Regions from separate parts of the Homo sapiens genome. Here region 2 is linked to region 1. The links come from fine-mapping of genetic effects on plasma protein levels. A gene starts in region 1. The other region holds a variant in brackets. All regions are shown on one strand. Distances are from middle to middle.

Evidence for each region. PIP is the chance, under the fine-mapping model, that this variant and not a neighbour inherited with it causes the effect. Protein levels are from antibody-based Olink assays in UK Biobank. Linkage for the fine-mapping came from a reference panel and not from the study's own genotypes, which makes the PIPs less certain.
Region 2: its variant is fine-mapped to the plasma level of the PCDH7 protein (UK Biobank, PIP 0.97).

The regions. Positions count from the first base shown.
Region 1 is chr4:30,714,302-30,723,868 of GRCh38, forward strand. PCDH7 (protocadherin 7) reads left to right here and starts at 6,068. Exons shown (of 3, transcript NM_001173523.2): 1 at 6,068-9,567. The coding sequence starts at 7,122. It overlaps LOC124900844, which reads right to left and starts at 4,820. Exons shown (of 1, transcript XM_047416545.1): 1 at 2,330-4,820. The coding sequence starts at 3,606. The coding sequence ends at 3,040. RefSeq lists an enhancer at 6,877-7,587.
Region 2 is chr4:31,150,978-31,160,544 of GRCh38, forward strand. No RefSeq gene overlaps it. Among named protein-coding and RNA genes, the nearest start is that of LINC02497, 15 kb to the right of the region's middle. The variant C/CAT (reference allele first, on the strand shown) is at 3,948.

The DNA of each region.
Region 1 (9,567 bases):
ACACCTGCTGATTTATAGGGATGTATTGTTGAACCCATATTATCTACTTTGATATGCTTCTTAATTCAGCTTTACATGGATGATTTATTTTAAAAGCACTGAAATGGGTATCGAAAAGGTACTACCACTTTCCCAAATCAATGTCAGCCTGAAGTTTACTGAATTCTTCAAGTATTGGTCCTAAGTCAAATTCACAACCAGTCTGACTTATACAGAGTTGAACAATGACTACATACCAGCACCCGTATTTCCCAGGGAAGTGAAATTCCTCTTCCACTTAGGGCTGCCCGGAACTGGTTAATGGCCTCATCTAGCCACAAGGGGGCCAAGAGGTACAATTCCATGTTAGGCCCAGAAGCCACAGTCAGAAATACTTGGGGAAAGTTCTCAATGACTGCCCTATAAGTATCAGCATCTGTCGTTAGAAAATTCATTGCTGCTGAAATAGTCAAATTTCTTATATTTCTCATTCTAGAAACATCCCACATTATGTATTTCCTAATTACAATCAATCAAATTTGTTTGAATAAAGTTTTCTACCGCCTGTTATTCAGAATGAACATAAGAAGTGGCCTAGCTAGGTCGACACAGCCAGGTGCTAAAACTTCTAAAGCTAATACATAATTTTCAACCATTCTTGTTATAAGCAAGGTCATTTGTTTGGGAATTAAATTTGTCCAAGCAATTATAATGAAATTTCTCCCCCAAATCCTTAACATGTTATCTAGCTTAGAGGTCATTATCCACAGCAGTATTTGATATATCCTGCCACGATAGTAAAAATATGCAAATCTCCCAAGTTCGTACTGCAAAGGGCATTGGTAGGTCTAATTTTACCATCAATAGTGAAAGGAGATAGCTTCAGATGACCCTAAATAATAGGATGTACTGCTTTTAACCTATCAAGGGTCTTTTTCCCAGAAGTAATCCAGATTTTATAAAATACTGTGTGCCCCCAACTTACATTTTTGTAAATGTATGAAAATTAATGTAAAGTTGAAAAAATTCATAAACTAATGATCTTGTAAGTAAAAGACAAATGCCAGTTATAGTCACTGACTGGATCTTTTTATGTGTGTCATGACTTGTAAATCTCTGCTATATTGCACATATTTTGGCATGTAAACCTTTAGAAAATGAATAAAAAATCAACTGTCAATATGTGCTAAACTTAAGGTAAAAATCATTTATTCTGTGTTATTTTAAAACCTAAAACACTCTATTGAAATCTGAAAACCAGACAGCGTGTGAGCTAATAAACACTTAAAATTTTATTTTTCAAAGCTTCTTCTTTTTTTTTTTTTTTTTGTAAATGAGATTTTCATATCGGCCTTGTGGAAATGTTTATAGTTATCCAGTAGATAGTATGAATCAACTTAGTTTAGTTTCTGTGTGCTTCTTTTATAGATACACTGTAAAATATAGCTTTGCATATGATTTCTTGATTTAAACAGCACAACTTATTCTATGTCTTGGCTAGAAACCAATTAAATAACCACTGATGCAAGCAGTTATTACCTGCTTAAAAGGAAATCTGTGGTTTCCTTATTTAAACTGATGAGTTTTAATGTCTATCAAAAAGGCTGTTATTGCAATGAATAATTTAGTCATTTCAGTCTACTAAACATGTTAATACTACAAGCATGGATTTAAGGCTGTAAAATATATCTAAAGTTTCTCAGAGTCTCAAGGATCAGAATCATACTTGGAATAGTTATGCACAGATATGTTTACTCTTTCAAGTAATATATGTTTAAAGGACAATCGTTTGTAGTAATTATTTAGAAAAGGAAGACTGAAGTATCAAATTTAGCGAAAGGGGTTAGAGAAATGGTTGATCATAAAGGCCTAGAAAACACGTCTACAGATAGAAGACCCTTTTTAAAAAGATGAAAGGTCAATGGATTTAGAGATATCCGAGTGTCATTTCCTCTGTTTGTCCCTTGGTGGAGTTCTTGAGTTACTTTCTCCTTTTCTGTCAAACTGTTTTTATCTTTCCAGAACTGGCTATCGTGTTTACTGTATTTAACCTTTTTCTCATATTATTGTGAATACAGCGTCTATTATAAATGAAAGGCCCCCTGAGATCACATCTCCAGCATCTACTTTGTATTCTTAACCATAAACTTTTGTTGTAGTTACTTCTCTTACTGTCTTTTCTTGAGGCTTGAACTACATCAGGGACCCTGAATGCTATTTTTCAGTTCAGCCACTGAAATTTCTTAACGGCAAAACAGGTTTAAGCAAGCGAGGTTAGTAGGTAAATTAAAAAAAAAAAATCTACTGAATATTTTAAGTTTAGGGTAAGATTTCTGGCACAGAAAATGAATCGTTTGTCAAGGTTTTATTAAATGCATATTAGCACGGGATGATATTTATATTTTAATCAATTTCATTTTTTACATCTTGATTTCAAAGGGGTATTTCCTTTTATTGTTCTTTTTTAAAAAGCCACTAAAGAAAAAACAGAAATCTCCATTTCAACATTCCCTCAAACATTTTGCTTCCTACATGCGATGACGTCTAATCACTCTGATCGATGCAAGCTTTAGGGCACTGATCTCATTTTCTCTCTCCAGTTCTGGCCGCCAAAGCAGCAGCAGCAGCAGCAGCAGCAGCAGCAGCAGCAGGCTCTTTAATTTATTGCAGGCGGTTACACTTTCGATCCCATTTCCTTCTGAACCCTTTCCTCTCAGGTTGAGTAGATAAATGCAGCCTCGGGTCTGAGAAGCCGGGGGGGGGGGGGGGGGGGGGTTGGTGGGTGGGAGCGAAGCCGGATATCACATTCCCTCGGTGAGGTCTGGTACCGGGGGGGATTAAGTCTCCCGGTTCCATTTAATGAAATTGCTGAGCACTTGTGACACTGGCTCTAAGACTGCGGAAATGGGGCGGGGGTGGGAGAAACTGCTTCTCTCTTCATTCATCCTCTGCGCCGGCGAGAGGAGAGAGTGTCAGCCCCTAGAGAGGGGGCGGAAGAGGACTGGGAGCTCCAGCCGCCGCAAGGGCGCCCCGAGGGCTCCTCTCACCTCCCCCGTACCCCTACCCCGCCCATTTCCTTTGCTTGCCCAGAACGGCGCTGCAGGGCAAAGCCGCCGCCACTTCTTTGCTGCTCTGGCAGAAAGGTCGGAGCCTGGGACTGATGGGGGTGGGAGCAAAGCCAGCAGGCTTCTTGGCCCCCGCAGTCTGTCCTCGCTGTTCTCCATGCAGCACACGTCGGACCCATTTCCCACGCTGGCTTGGCTCCGCCGCGAAGTTGGTAGGAATGAGAGTGAGGAGGGCGGGCTGGAGACTTCCTCCCGCTCGCAAAGAGGAAACCACTCCACTGTGAAGGACGCGCTGCAACTCCCTAGTCATCCGGGAAGAAATGTGCAGCGCGCTGAGGAAAAGCCGCCCACTCCTTCGCGCCCCGCTCAAGTGTGCGCCTGGAGAGTGCGCGCCAGAGCCGCGAGCAAATGCTTTGAAGATGCGGAGAGGCTTATTCAAGTTTATGGTCTGGAGAGGGAAGAGGGAGTGCACAACGTTTCTGCCCAAGCGGCTGCCTGAAGTTTGCAAAATCTTAGTAAGGCGATGAGGGGAGTGAGTGCACTGCACCATATTGCCGCGCATCGGAATGCACGGCGCAAGGCCGCGGAGTGGAGACGGCTTCTCCCATTTGCCTCCAACCTGGGAAAAAGGGGAACCAGGGTCGGAGGTTTGGAGAGAGGCAGGCGTTCCGATAAACCCGGGTTCTTGCCAAATGTAAGAGGGATTTGGCTTTACTGCCACTTAGCCGGCCGCGAAGGCGCTGCGGAGCCCACCCCCGCCCCCGGCTCGAGACTGCGGCGGTGCGCACTGAGCCTGCGCGCGGGGCTTTTCTCGCTGATGCTGCAGATACAGAGCTGAGAGGTTCGGGTGCCAGCAGCGGGAGGGTTAGCGGGAAGGCCGGGTTCCCTGCCCTGGCCTCGGAGGAGGAGCCACCACCCCTGGGGTGATGCTACTTTCACAGACTGGAAAATACTCGCCAGCTCCCTGACACACACTTAGACACACTTCCATCCAACGGGCATCTACGATCCCCTGTAGGGAGAGCTTGGAAATCTCTGCCGCCTCTCCCTCCTCATTCCTGTTCCTGCGCCCGCCCAAACAACCGCGCGCTACATCTGCTCGTTGACTTTATTGGTGTTTGTCTTGTTTAAATCATTCTGCCTCGTCACCCAGGTCTCGTAAAGAATACCCACACTGGACAGATTTTATTTTTTCGGCTTTAAATTTTTCTTTGAGGGGAGGCCCTTAAATGTGTATGGATACGTCAGGCGAGCTGAAGACTAAGCAAATCCCAGCAGCGGCCCTTTCTCTCTTTCGAGATGGTAAAAATTCTCCCCAAATACCTACAGTCCGTCTCAGTCGTCTTAATCCTAGCCGGGCCTCTTCGTTTACAGCCACTGAAATAAATGAGTAAATGGCTCAGTTCAAAAACACAACCAGACCTGAGATCTGATGAGGCCGGCTGCGGTGGTCGTGAATGAAAATTGGAGAAGCCTTGCTTCAGGAAATAGGGACAGTCAAGGGACACAAAGTCAAAAGGAGAGATGGGAAAGCTGGGGACACTTTGGTACACAAAGTTGCCATTAAAGTTTATTTCCCTTTTATCCAGATAGGTGACGCTACACTTTGCCAGTTACTAAAGGCTGCAGGTTTCTGCTCAGAAAATAATATCGAGGTTTCCAACATGTGTTTATTCCCCAGGCGCGCACACACGGTCTACCCCCGCAAGCAAGCACGACGACAGGAATGTCAAGCATTTAAACAAAGACAGACATCCTTCACCCTCCACCCACCGCCGCCCCTGCCCCCCGCAACCATCCAAAGTCTGAGCTCCCAAAAAAGGATCTTTCTCCAGCTCTCTGGAGTTTGATGTTCTCTCTTCACTACTGCAGCCCGTCATGGTTTTTCAGAACAGAGTGGCTTTCTGGGCGCTCGTAGGTTCCCCAGGACCCCGATAACCATGTCCTAACCAAGATCCTAAATCGCGAACCGGAGACACTTTCCGGGGGGAGGAGGACGTCGTCTGAGAGGGAGGGAGAAGGAGAAACCTATCCTGACACCAGCTCCGAAAGCTCTCACGCGTGAACTGGGCATTAGTCAAGGGAGGAGGAAATTTACCAGCCCGAGGGAGGGAAAACAAGTCCCCCAGAGAAGACGGCGGTACTCGCTAGGGAGGGGGACTGGGCTTTGGCTTAAAGAGGACTGGCTGGGATTGGGCACACTTTGAGCGGCCCCTGGAGCTGAGGCTGGGCTTTCCCGAGCGCGGCGGCTGGCTGACGCTCCCTCCCGCCTCCTTATCCCGGGCCCTCCTCCCTCGCTCTCTCCTAGTGTGTAGTTTCGGCGGCTCGGCTGCTACTGCCGCCGCCGCTGCAGCAGCAGCGTCAGGGACAAGCCTGATCCGTGAGCGAGCGAGCACCCAGCAGCAACCACCACTTTGGGCAACTTGCGGGTTTCCTGCTCGCGGGTAGCGAACGGGAGATTCCCACTAGCGGTTCAGTGTCTCCGAGCCGCTGCAGCCCGAGGGGCGGCGGGAGCGCCCGCACCAGACTCTCCCAGACGCGAAAAGGGACGAGACAACTGCGGAATTCACCAGCCGTGCCAGGGCACTTCCGAGGCCACAACCGACTGACACTTTTTCTCCCCTTGGCAAACTGGATTTTTTTTTTTAAGCTACTTGGCAGCTGTCTCTGACTCCACCTCCCCCTCCACCCCCGCCCGAAAGCCTTTGGCTTTTCTTCGGAAATCCAGACAGAATTGGGCATCTTTGTTAATTGCCGTTGGGGACGCCCGGCCGTGCGCTTTCGCCGGCTAACGTCGCCTGTGCTCCGAGCCTGGTTTGCTCACCTTTGAACTGCAAAGGGATCAAGTTCAGCTTGAGTTCCCTGCATTGGGAAGGAGAGAGAGCGTGCAAGAGAGCGAGTGGGAGAGGGGGAAAGGGGAAAGGAGAGGAGGGAGGAGAGAGAGGAGGGAGGAGAGAGAAAGGGAGGGAGGGAGGGGAGGGATCGAGAGAGAGCGGGGAGAGAGAGGCTGCAATCTCCTCCCTGAATCGCGCACAGCGCTGCAGATCCCACTGCTCCGACATGCGGGCCGAATGCAGGTGAGAAAAGGCACGGACTCTGCGGCTGCGAACCCAAACTTGGGCACCGCACGGTGCGCACTGCTCAGCCTTCGCCCCCGTGGGCGAAAGGCTGCTGCGGTTTCAGGCGGCTGCTTCGTGACTAATGACCTTGCGCAGAGTTGTTAAGAAAAAAGAGAAACCCGCGCTCTCCGGGGTGAGAAGGGACTGACTCTGGGCGTCTCTGAAGATGGCTCGGGCTTCTCTTTGGCGCGCCGGGGGGACCCTGACACTGACCGCTCTGTGACGCGAGTAGTCTCCCCTGCACCGTGCCCGAAGCGACGTGCCGGGGGATTTTTCATTCTCGATCTGTTGACTGGCTCCCCCGCTGCATGAGCAGAGTCGGAGTTGAGACTGGCTTGTTGCTGGCCCCAGCGCCTGGTGCAGGAAGCGACTCACGTTTGTCTGGGTGGCCGGAGCCGGAGCAGAGCCTGGGTTTGGAGTGAGTGCCTGGAACGTGAATTGGACTCAACTCGAGTAGCAGCAAAGACCAGCGGGCTGGCAGGCGGGGGAGGCTGCAGGCTCATTCCCCACCTCTTCCCAGCCCCACTGCCCGTCTGCCGGAGCGGTTCTGGCCCCTTCCGACAGAGCGGGGACTAGAGCCGGGGATTCTCCGCCCGCTGAGGGGATGACTCTGGGTTGGGGGAGCGCCGAACCCGCGGCGCGCAGTGTCCCGTGAACTGTGAGTACTGCGACTGAACGGCGGCAGGCGAGCGGGCGATTAGCACCCATTGCATGAATTATGAAACAATAACTTTCGGAAGAAGCAGGAGGAAAAAAAGAAGCATCTATCGCTGCCCTCCCACCCCCATTCCCGGCCAACTCTCCACGCCGCTTTTGCCCCCTCCCTCCCCTCCCTCTCGCTCCTTCCTTTCCGGGAGAGGGGAGAGGACTCGGGGGAGGGCAGGCGGCCGGCCCCGGAGGAGGGGGGCGCCGAGGGGGCTGTGGTTAGAAGGAGCAGTAGCAGCAGCAGCAGGAGAAGATGCTGAGGATGCGGACCGCGGGATGGGCGCGCGGCTGGTGCTTGGGCTGCTGCCTCCTCCTGCCGCTCTCGCTCAGCCTGGCGGCCGCCAAGCAGCTCCTCCGGTACCGGCTGGCCGAGGAGGGCCCCGCCGACGTCCGCATCGGCAACGTGGCTTCAGACCTGGGCATCGTGACCGGATCGGGTGAGGTGACTTTCAGCCTGGAGTCCGGTTCCGAGTACCTGAAGATCGACAACCTCACTGGCGAGCTGAGCACGAGCGAGCGGCGCATCGACCGCGAGAAGCTGCCCCAGTGTCAGATGATCTTCGACGAGAACGAGTGCTTCCTGGACTTCGAGGTGTCGGTGATCGGGCCCTCGCAGAGCTGGGTGGACCTGTTTGAGGGTCAGGTCATCGTGCTTGACATCAACGACAACACGCCCACCTTCCCGTCGCCCGTGCTCACGCTCACGGTGGAGGAGAATCGGCCGGTGGGCACACTTTACCTGCTGCCCACAGCCACCGACCGCGACTTCGGCCGCAACGGCATCGAGCGCTACGAGCTGCTCCAGGAGCCCGGAGGCGGCGGCAGCGGCGGCGAGAGCCGGCGCGCCGGGGCGGCCGACAGCGCCCCCTACCCCGGGGGCGGCGGGAACGGCGCGAGCGGCGGCGGCTCGGGAGGCTCCAAGCGGCGGCTGGACGCATCAGAGGGCGGCGGCGGCACCAACCCCGGCGGCCGCAGCAGCGTGTTCGAGCTGCAGGTGGCGGACACCCCGGACGGCGAGAAGCAGCCGCAGCTGATCGTGAAGGGGGCGCTGGACCGCGAGCAGCGCGACTCCTACGAGCTGACCCTGCGAGTGCGCGACGGCGGCGACCCGCCTCGCTCCTCGCAGGCCATCCTACGGGTCCTCATCACCGACGTGAACGACAACAGCCCCCGCTTCGAGAAGAGCGTGTACGAGGCCGACTTGGCTGAGAACAGCGCCCCGGGGACCCCCATCCTGCAACTGCGCGCAGCCGACTTGGACGTGGGGGTCAACGGGCAGATCGAATACGTGTTCGGGGCGGCCACCGAGTCGGTGAGGCGGCTGCTGCGCCTTGACGAGACGTCCGGCTGGCTCAGCGTCCTGCACCGGATCGACCGCGAGGAGGTGAACCAGCTGCGCTTCACGGTCATGGCCCGCGACCGCGGGCAGCCCCCCAAGACCGACAAGGCCACCGTGGTCCTTAACATCAAAGACGAGAACGACAACGTGCCGTCCATTGAAATCCGCAAGATTGGGCGCATCCCCCTCAAGGACGGGGTGGCCAACGTGGCCGAGGACGTTCTGGTCGACACCCCCATCGCTCTGGTGCAGGTGTCCGACCGAGACCAAGGCGAGAACGGGGTGGTCACCTGCACCGTGGTGGGCGACGTGCCCTTCCAGCTCAAGCCAGCCAGCGACACCGAGGGCGACCAGAACAAGAAAAAGTACTTCTTGCACACCTCGACCCCTCTGGACTATGAGGCCACCCGGGAGTTCAACGTGGTCATCGTGGCGGTGGACTCAGGCAGCCCCAGCCTCTCGAGCAACAACTCCCTGATTGTCAAGGTGGGAGACACCAACGACAACCCGCCCATGTTCGGCCAGTCGGTGGTGGAGGTTTACTTCCCTGAGAACAACATCCCGGGCGAGAGGGTGGCCACGGTGCTGGCGACAGACGCAGACAGCGGTAAGAACGCCGAGATCGCCTACTCGCTGGACTCCTCTGTGATGGGGATCTTTGCCATCGATCCCGATTCTGGGGACATCCTGGTCAATACCGTGCTGGACCGCGAGCAGACTGACAGGTATGAGTTTAAAGTTAACGCCAAAGACAAAGGCATCCCCGTGCTGCAGGGCAGCACTACGGTGATTGTGCAGGTGGCTGATAAAAATGACAATGACCCTAAGTTTATGCAGGACGTCTTCACCTTTTATGTGAAAGAAAACTTGCAGCCCAACAGCCCTGTGGGGATGGTCACCGTGATGGATGCTGACAAGGGGCGGAATGCAGAGATGAGCCTGTACATAGAGGAGAACAATAACATTTTTTCTATTGAAAATGACACGGGGACCATTTACTCCACAATGTCTTTTGACCGGGAACATCAGACCACATACACTTTCAGAGTCAAGGCTGTGGATGGGGGAGATCCTCCCAGATCTGCCACAGCTACAGTCTCGCTTTTTGTGATGGATGAAAATGACAATGCTCCCACAGTTACCCTTCCCAAAAACATTTCCTACACTTTACTGCCACCTTCGAGTAATGTCAGGACAGTAGTAGCTACAGTGTTGGCAACAGACAGTGATGATGGCATCAATGCAGACCTGAACTACAGCATTGTGGGAGGAAATCCCTTCAAGCTGTTTGAAATTGATCCCACTAGTGGTGTGGTTTCCTTAGTGGGAAAACTCACCCAAAAGCATTATGGCTTGCACA
Region 2 (9,567 bases), 440 kb after region 1:
GACAGGAAAGAATCACATCTTAAGATTTTTTTTTCAATCACTTAGATGCATAAATACCATTCTTCATTGAGAAGACATACAAAATAGGCAGTGGGGCTGGATTTGGCCAATAGATTTTAGTTTACTGACCATGGTGTACCCAAAATGATTTCAACTGATACGAATTTTAGAATTTATTACTAAAATTTCCTTTCTTATGCCTTCCTTAAATATGTTCCTGTTTGCCTAGAACAGTGCTGGTTTATGGCTTTTCCAACACATTCATTATTATTCATGCTTAAAAGTTAAATTATGAGGTCACCCTAGTTATCAGAGTCTTTCCTTCTCGTTGACCAGCTTCCCATTGACTAGTTATGTAAAAAATCTCACCCCTAGATCACAAAAGTTTGACTCTGTAAGAGAAGCAGGTCATTGTGCACAATGTCCTCAGGCCACTGGAAAAAAAGCTCATATCCTGATGCGGTAATCTTCCTCCACTTAAAAAGTTAAAAAAATAAAAAAGAGTGTCTTATTCTAGAAGTGCCCACTTGGGATTAGAGGTGGGAGATTTGCTATTTTCTATTGGATCAAAAACTTTAACATACTTGTATTTAAATGTTATGGATAAGTTCTCATTATATTGTGTTAAATAAAAAAATGGTACGAAGTTTCATATCTAGAGCATGATATGCACAAAATAAAAAGAAGAAATACTGTGATGAACATAACAGCATTCTTGGAGCTTATTTATAATTATTGTTTGTGTTTTCCAAATTGTACACAATGAATATATTTTATAATAACAATATGAAAAAGTGGACATTTTGATAATATTTTAAAATTATGGGTAGTTCAGTGAATAAACTTAAAAATAGTAAAAGACACCACTTAATGTTAAAGCATTGGACATTCTTTATCTGATCATGCCCCCAAAGAAAACTGTATTTCAAAAATGTTAAATTATCATTCTCTTATGACATTTCACATTAGCTATTTTCTATCCCAGCAAAGTGAATGATATGCTAAATAACTTCAGAGATTGTTTTTAAACTAATGCAAAGGAAATAATATTCATGTGAAGGTTAAATGTGAACACTTTTAACTTGGTAAATTAAATGTGAGGCTTATGTTTTGAGGGAAGTATTATATAGCACACAATCATACCAAAAAATATCAACTACTATAACAAACCTATTATTTAGGTGATCAACATAGAAACTATGAATAGGTGCTTCGGCATCTTCACTGGATATTTCTATTTGGATTCACCAGTATGACTATCTCTAAAGCCTCAATCTGGGAATTATTATAGATTTCAGCTTTGTTGTAGATGGGACGAGTTGATTTTGTTGAACCTCCAAAAGTGAAGCTATTGAAAAAACTACTATATAAATCTATATCTAGTCTGAGAAACAATATTCTCATTGACTAAAATAATCTGGAAATATAGTTGAAAGCAAAAAGGATAAATTATCAGTTGAATGGAACAGGTACTGAGATACTGTCAGTCCATAGATGATTAAGAAATGAAAAATGGCAATTGAGAATAATGCTACCATGTTGGAAAATTTGCTTCAAGGCTACAGATGTTATTGGCAAAAAGAGGATGAAATGGATGAGCAATCTAGCTTTTATCTAGAGAAAGTCAGCCTCCAGTGAACCATCTTTTTTTGTATGCCCCTGCTATGTCAATTACTGGGGTTCAGAGAGAGATGTTTAGTATACTGCCTATTGACTTCTTTCCTTAAATTGCCTAGAATACTCCAAACTCATTATTTCTATTTTTCTCTATATTTTATTAGATGAAAACAAATACTGTAACAGGTGGTTTGATTTTTCTCTCTGCTTGGGATTTATATGTGCTTCTCAGCCAGCATTTTGTTATCCTCAGCTTTAAAGGCTCTAAGTCATCAGAGAATCACTCCCACTTGACTATAAATATAAGTCAGATGATTATAATGACAGTGTCACAGGTGGAAAAATAATCTTCATTCTATTGTAGTCAAGCCCAACACTGACAAAGAATCATACATTGCGTCGGTGTTTCAATTAAGATGAAGGTACCAATTTATACTTTAACTCTTCAAGAAGGGCAAGAAGAAATGTATACAGAAGAATATCTTCAGGGTTAATTTCAACCTGAGTTGCAAATATAAAATCCTGATTATTCAGGATAGTGAATCAAAGCTGAATTACCGGAAGTTAATTTGGATTCAGCATTTGCATTGCTTGTTTTCACTGGACTCACTACAAAAAAAAAAAAAAGGACTTGTTCTCTGGCATACTTGTTCATGCACACCATGATGGGAAAGAATTCCTGGAGGTATCACTCTTCTCACACAGATTTACAATCTCCAGCATGGAGGAATTAGGTGGAACAGATATATTTCACTCATACCTTGGTCAACGTCTATCTAGGAAAGTCTAGATGTTCCTATTAACTCAACATGTATTTGTATCTGTAATTTGATTCTGTTTTAACCAATATGAAGTCCTGCTTATAACTGTGTGAGGCAGAGGAAAATTTCTAGGCTAAGATTCAAATCAGAAAGCATACTGCAATAAGCAACTTCTTCTCAAGGATGTGATACCAACTCTTAGTCTTCTCCAGGTGTGATACTATCTCTCAGTCTTCTCTGATGACCAATTGGAAAAGTCATCTAGGAAAATGGTCACCATCATTCTAGCTTTTAAAGATGTTTATCCTCATTATCAAATACATAAGAATAATGTAACTAAGGAAACACTTTCTAAAAATGTATCATAACCTTGCAGAAAAGTTGCTCATATCTTTTTCCTGAATTTTTTTTGACTTTGTGCATTTCTTCCATGAAATGTGGATGCAATTTATTAGCTTAACAAAAATAAATGAGACATATACAATGCTGGATGTTTGGGTACAGTGGTGGGCAAGATATGGCTTGCTCCTTCTCTTATAGAGTTATAATCCAGGTGGGAGGTAATCTAGAGGAAAAATTATCAAAATTAACAAGAACCACATAACACTTGGTACTTGGTATGTTCAAAGAAAATAACGGTTCTTTGGACTAATGTGTGGGACATCTATCTTGAATTTCTGCAGCAAGAATAGCCACTGAGAGCAAGAGGCATCCACGATCAGGAATGATAATGCACAGTTGGGAGTAGAAGGATGAAGAGATTTTCAGGCAAAGATAGCAGCATATGTAGGCTGGATGATCTGAGAGAATATGAAGAAGCGAAGAATTGAAAGTGGTTTTTGATGGGGAAATGATAGAGAAGGAATGAACATGAAGGAGGAGTTTGGGGAATGAAGGATGAGGGTGTAGGAGTTAAATGTATCAGGGATAGTGGTAAGAAGATGAACCCCCAAGTGGTTGCTCTCTGTCTCCCTTCCTGGAAAAATATCTGAATATTTTATGATTAAAGAATTGCATTATTTGGTGCCCTCTCAAAGAATTGAGACAGTCTAAGGTAGTCTCTATAGTTGTGAGAAGTACGAAAGTTCAGGGTCTATCTCAGCAGCTGAAAAGCCTCCCCTCATGGAACTGAGTGGTTATTCATTATGCCATCCAGGTTTAACACTTCTATTCATTCATAGCTGTGATGGTTAATACTGAGCGTCAACTTGATTTGATTGAAGGATGCAAAGTATTGATCTTGGGTGTGTCTGTAAGGGTGTTGCCAAAGGAGATTAACATTTGAATCAGTGGCCTGGGAAATGCAGACTCACCCTAATCTGGGTGGGCACCATCTAATCAGCTGTCAGCATGGCCAGAATATAAAACAGGCAGAAAAACGTGAAAAGGCTAGATGGTCTTAACCTCCCAGCCTACATCTTTCTCCCATGCTGGATGCTTCCTGCCCTTGAACATCAGACTCTACATTCTTCAGCTTTGGGACTCAGACTGACTTCCCTGTTTCTTAGCTTGCAGATGGCCTATTGTGGGACCCTTGTGATTTCATGAGTTAATATTACTTAATAAACT[C/CAT]ATATATATATATATACACACACACACACATATATACGTATACATACATACACACACATATATACGTATATATATGTGTATATATATACATATATATACACACACATATATATACGTATATATACACACACATATATATGTATATCTACACACACGTATATATACATATATACACATATATCTATGTGTATACACACACACATACACACACACACACACACACACACATATATGGTCTATTAGTTCTCGCCCTCTAGAGAATCCTGACTAATAAACTAGCTTAGTCTGTTCAGGCTACTATCACAAAGTGTCATAGACTGAGAGGCTTATAGACAACAGAAATGTATTCCTCACAGTTCTAAAAGTTGGAAGTCTGAGACCAGGGTACCAGCATGGTCAGGTTCTGGTGAGAGCTTTCTTCTAGGTTGCATTTCTTTTGTTTTACTGTATTCTCAGATAACTGAAAGAAGATGAGAGAACTCTCTAGGGTTTCTTTTACAAGGGCATTAATACCATTTATGATGGCTCTACTTTCATGACCTAATTACCTCCCAATCCTTAATACCTTCATATTGGAGATTAGGATTTTAACATATGAATTTGGAGGGAGGCACACAGACATTTAGTCCTTAATAATCCCCTTATATCATAGATTCCTTGATGTCTTCTTGGCCACAGCTATGACTTGGCTCATCTTTGTCTCTGCTTCCATAATTCCTATTGTGGCCTTAGTTGTTCTTTTTAGACATGCTTCCTCCAACAGGGTACCCACTAGCCACAAGTAGCTATTTAAATCTGAATTTAATTCAATTAACCTTCTCCAGCATGTGTTCCATTGGACAGGCTTGTTACATTCTGACAGTAGACAGAATGATTGAGTGCATAGACTGCTGGTCATCCTACTGGCTGCTTTCAGGTCATCCTGCTGCCATCAGTTGAGTGCAGGATAAGGTGAAACAAAGTATGATGATACAACCACAGGAAATTCTTAAATCTGCTGCTTTGGGCCATAGAAAGAGATGACAGGCATTATATCTAGTAAAAGTGACATAGATAGATATGGTTATAAATAAAATCATAGTGACTGGTCTGTCTGAAGCAGCTGGGGAAGCTGATAAAGAAGGTTCTTTAAAAGTCAGCATGGAAAGATTAAGTGGAGGTAAGAAAACCAATAAGGGGGAAGATAAGTATCTCAAGCACAGGGAACAGTAATGCTAAAGGTGAAATATATGTAAACAGAAAAATCAGAGGTAGTGCCTGCAAGTATTCAGAATTCCTAGAGCACAATGAGAAGAGGGGCAGGGTCCCTGTCATCCTATAATACAGCAGTTTTGTAAGTGCTCTGCTTCTTAGCCCCATTTTTCACATCCACGTTGTGTATGATTAAAACTCCCTTACCTACTGTTAGACACATCACTAATGGTGGACATCTGTTCATTTCATCAACCAAGCCTTTCTTCTGCCATCTCTTGGCAAAATCACCTCAGTTTTCCTTTGCCAGCTGTCTGTGGTTAAGTGTCTCTATTTTCCCCTGGCCACATACTGGGTAGGGAATTCAAGTTGGGCCAATTTGATCCTCTCTCCAATTTGGAGGAGAACCCAGAGGCAGAAAATGGTTCAAGCTGATTGATTCTAATTGTGAAGCTCTAACCATTTTCCTTATCTCAGCAGCCTTGAGTCCCAGAGCTGTTTCCAAGGGGCCCTGAAAGAGTTTACCTAGCATCTGCCTTTTAGTGAGCATTTTAATCCTAAACCTGGAATACCTGCTTAATGGTATTGACTATAGGATCAAAAGCATGAAAATGCAGAAAACAAATGCATATTCCCAGCATTCTTTTCATATTGTTGTATCATCTGACCTCTCCAGTTGTATCTGCCCCAATGTTTCCCATGGCTACTCTGCTCTAGTTACTCATGTTTATTGTTTCTGAACTTGCCTTTTATATTTAAATCACTAAGCCATTTTTACACGTTATTCCCTCATCACAAAACATGTGCTTCCTGAAAACCTACTCAAATCCTGCCCATGGTACAAGGCTTACATCAATCTTAGATTCCCTAGTACCAACTTTGATTGTTTCAACTCAAAAATCATCTCTCTATTCCTCGAAACTCTGATTGAGGAGAGGAATATCATTTTTTCATTTATCCTTTCCTATATGAGACAGAGTTTTATAAAACACTCTTAGTTTCCTGCCTCATATTCCACTCCTCCTCACAGCAGAATGACTTAATTTGTGGATGAGAAACAGACATTAGCCCATTTTATTTCTTGAATCCACACCTTTTAAAATAAAAAGTATTAAATAAAAAAATAAAACAAAAAAATACAACAAAAACAATGACAAAAATCAAAAGTATTGACCACAGTGGAATAATTCAATCTTTCACCTTCCTTATTGAAATATTTGCTTCTTGTATTTATATCCCATCTTACAGAACTTGTAGACAGAAAATTAAAATGTTTCTCAGTATCTTTTCCATATCTCTTATTATGCAAATGCTAATGAGAAAATATTGGCACCCAAGACTCTGATGGATAAAATCCTTACCATGATATCTTGTCTTTGTTTTTGAGGTCTCCATCTTAAGAGAAACTATGTTCCAGAACTAAATGATTTCTAGAGTGACACTACATGTAGTTATAGAATAATTCTTGGAAGTAATTGAACACACTTTCTGCTAAATCATTCAGTATTTCAACAATTTCAGTGTTCACTAATGCACTAATGTTGAGTGACTGGTTGCAGATTAATAGGTGTTTTTATTTACTACTCACAAAAAGGTACTATGATTTATAGTAATGCCAAGAGTCAAAAAAAATAGATCATAATACTCTTTTTTGAGACTGTTTCACTATTTATGATATAATTTGACATAGCTTTGAATATGTGTTTCAGAATCTGTAATACTTAAGAATTAATACCCATAGTGTTTCTTTGAGAATAATATAAATTAATATATGCCAAAATTTTATTTGTTGTAAACATTTTTAGAATCATTACTTATCTTATCTTACATCTTTTACTGAATTTATGTAAAGAAGTAATTCCACTTACATCTCTAAGCTGGGAGAGAAGAGGTGGCTGTTTTATTCTGCCAAAGGAAAAACAAAAAAAGACTGTTGGGCTCCTTCTTGAAATTTTGTGTGAATTTTGCTTAGCCACTCCTGTGTTGTAAAATTAGTCAGTAAGGGTATCATATATGTCAAAACTTCTTCCATCTAAACTTAAGTAGGCTAACTAAGAGAATAAGGTCTCTGATTTGCATTTTGCAAAAACGGAACTCTACTAATGCAAGAGAAGCAATCATGACTTTGAGGATACTCTTTCAAGGAATGATGTACAGTCAGCACTGTCTTTTACAGCCAGCACAATAAATGATCTACAAGAGAAAATTTTAAATGACATTTCTACTGTAATTCCCATATGCCTTCTCTGTTGTTCTGGATATTTAATTTTAACACTAGACTTTCTTCTTCAGATCCTTTTTTCTTCTCTTCATGTTTTAATTCAACATGTATGTATGTCTACAGTAAAAGAAAGGTAAAATTTAAACATGTGATTATGTGATCACTCTTGGGTCACTCTGTGCAATTCAATTACAGCTAATTTTCAAATTAAAATAAATTAATTTACTATATTTATTAAACACACACGTATACATATGTATATGATTTTCTATATGTATGGAACTATTCCAAGAGTTTTATGTTTATTAACTTATTTAACCTTCAAAACAATCTTATGAGAATGAATCTTACCATCTTACTTTTCAAGTGAGTAAACTGAGACACAAAAAAGTTCAGCAAATTGCTCAAGGTTACCAACAGTGGATTACAAATTCAAACCCAAGACTTTGGCCTCCAGAGTCTGTGCCCCTCGCCACATGATTTACCCTTCATTTATTAATAAAAGTGAAGTCTCATTTGCTCCTGCTCTTCAGACGTATAAGGGTAGGTGACTCTTTACACACAACCTGTCAGAAGCTAAAGATAGACTTTCTAAATCTCTGAATGAATGTATCTTTCAAAAAATATTTTCCATAAAACAAACACATTTCATTATCTTGCATAATCTACTGCTGCTTCAGAGGCTGGGAGAAGCTGACTTCAGGAGTGGTCCCAGGTGAATAGGGTACAGAGCTTTGTGGAACTGCGCCTTTGCCAGGAGTCTTAAATAATTCTGGAGATTCTGTGAGCACAGTTTTGTGGCCTATTTAATACTACTGGGTTTCTGTAAATTACAGCTTCTATGTCTGTTTGTTTATAATCGATATGTTGCAAATTTTAAAGCTGTGATTGATAAAAATTCAAGATATCAGGTTTGCAAAAAAAATAAACTCAGGTCAGTCAATATGAGTATTCAAGTCCTAGAAATGTGTGTCATATGGTCAAGTTGAAGTTGAACTTGATTGTGGATAATATTAATTTACTAACTGAATACTCACTAATTTGAAGAGGGAAGGTATAATTTTTATTTTTGTAATCCTAAGTATGAATTCTGATGGCCTTTATATTATAGGATCAACAAATAGACAGGCTTTCCAGCTAGATTCTAAGTTCCGAGAGGACTTAGGACAACCTGTCTACATTATTCAATATTATATCACAATAAACTAACCCAGTTTATGACACATAGTTGAAGCCCAGTAAGATGTGAAACATGAAAGAAAGAAGAGAAGAAGGCAGGAAGGAAGATAGCCCTTTAACTAATTTACAGAAAGCATCATTGAAAATGTGTTCTTAACTGCCGGTTCTATAATGTAATTATCCTCTAAATGAATGGCACCCCAATTTTTATTGTGAGTATGTTCAGAAACTTCAGCCTGTTTTAGAAAGGATTTATTCACAAAATTACTTCTTCATTCTAAACTTTCCCCTGTTATATTGTATAAAAAAGCACTTTGCCACAAGCATCTGTATGCATCTAGAATTTCCATAGGGACAATGTATAAAACTATTTTAGTTAAACACAAGCTTTCTCTCCTTTTTGATTGTGAAGATTCAACTTCTACTATTATAAAACGGAGATAAATATGAATCATATTTAAAGGTTCTAAGACAATGAATACAATAGATTCCACCTAATTAAATTTAGATCTAGGCTCTAAGAAAATTCTGGTTAAGAGTCTCAAACGCAAGTTTGAGTTATTCCATATTCCAGTCAACATTCTCTTTCCTATCCCATTCATTCAACTCTTTAAAAATGTTACCACATGTCCCAGATCCTCATCCAAGGTTTGTTTGGGGTTTTTACACAAATAGTTTTTGTCTTCTAAGATAGAGGCTCTTTTCTATGATTGAAGACATGTCAGCAACTAGAGACTAAGCGGGCTCTTTGGGTCCATTTTGCATTCATGAACCCCTTCAAGCCCGTGGAGAAAAAGTCATCTTGTGATCCTAGCATGACTAATTTATTCTGGGTTGTGGTTACAACACTAGGGGAAAAAAAAAAATCAAATTCTTAGCTTTAGATGTTTTTGCTTTATGCTGTGCCACCATTGGAGATTTTTCTAAAGGCTAATGAGGACAGGACTTGTTTTACACAAGGTTTTCTTGTGAATATGCAGTGGGTGGAGGGATTTGAAGGTTAATGCATGAACGGAGTTCAGTTACCAT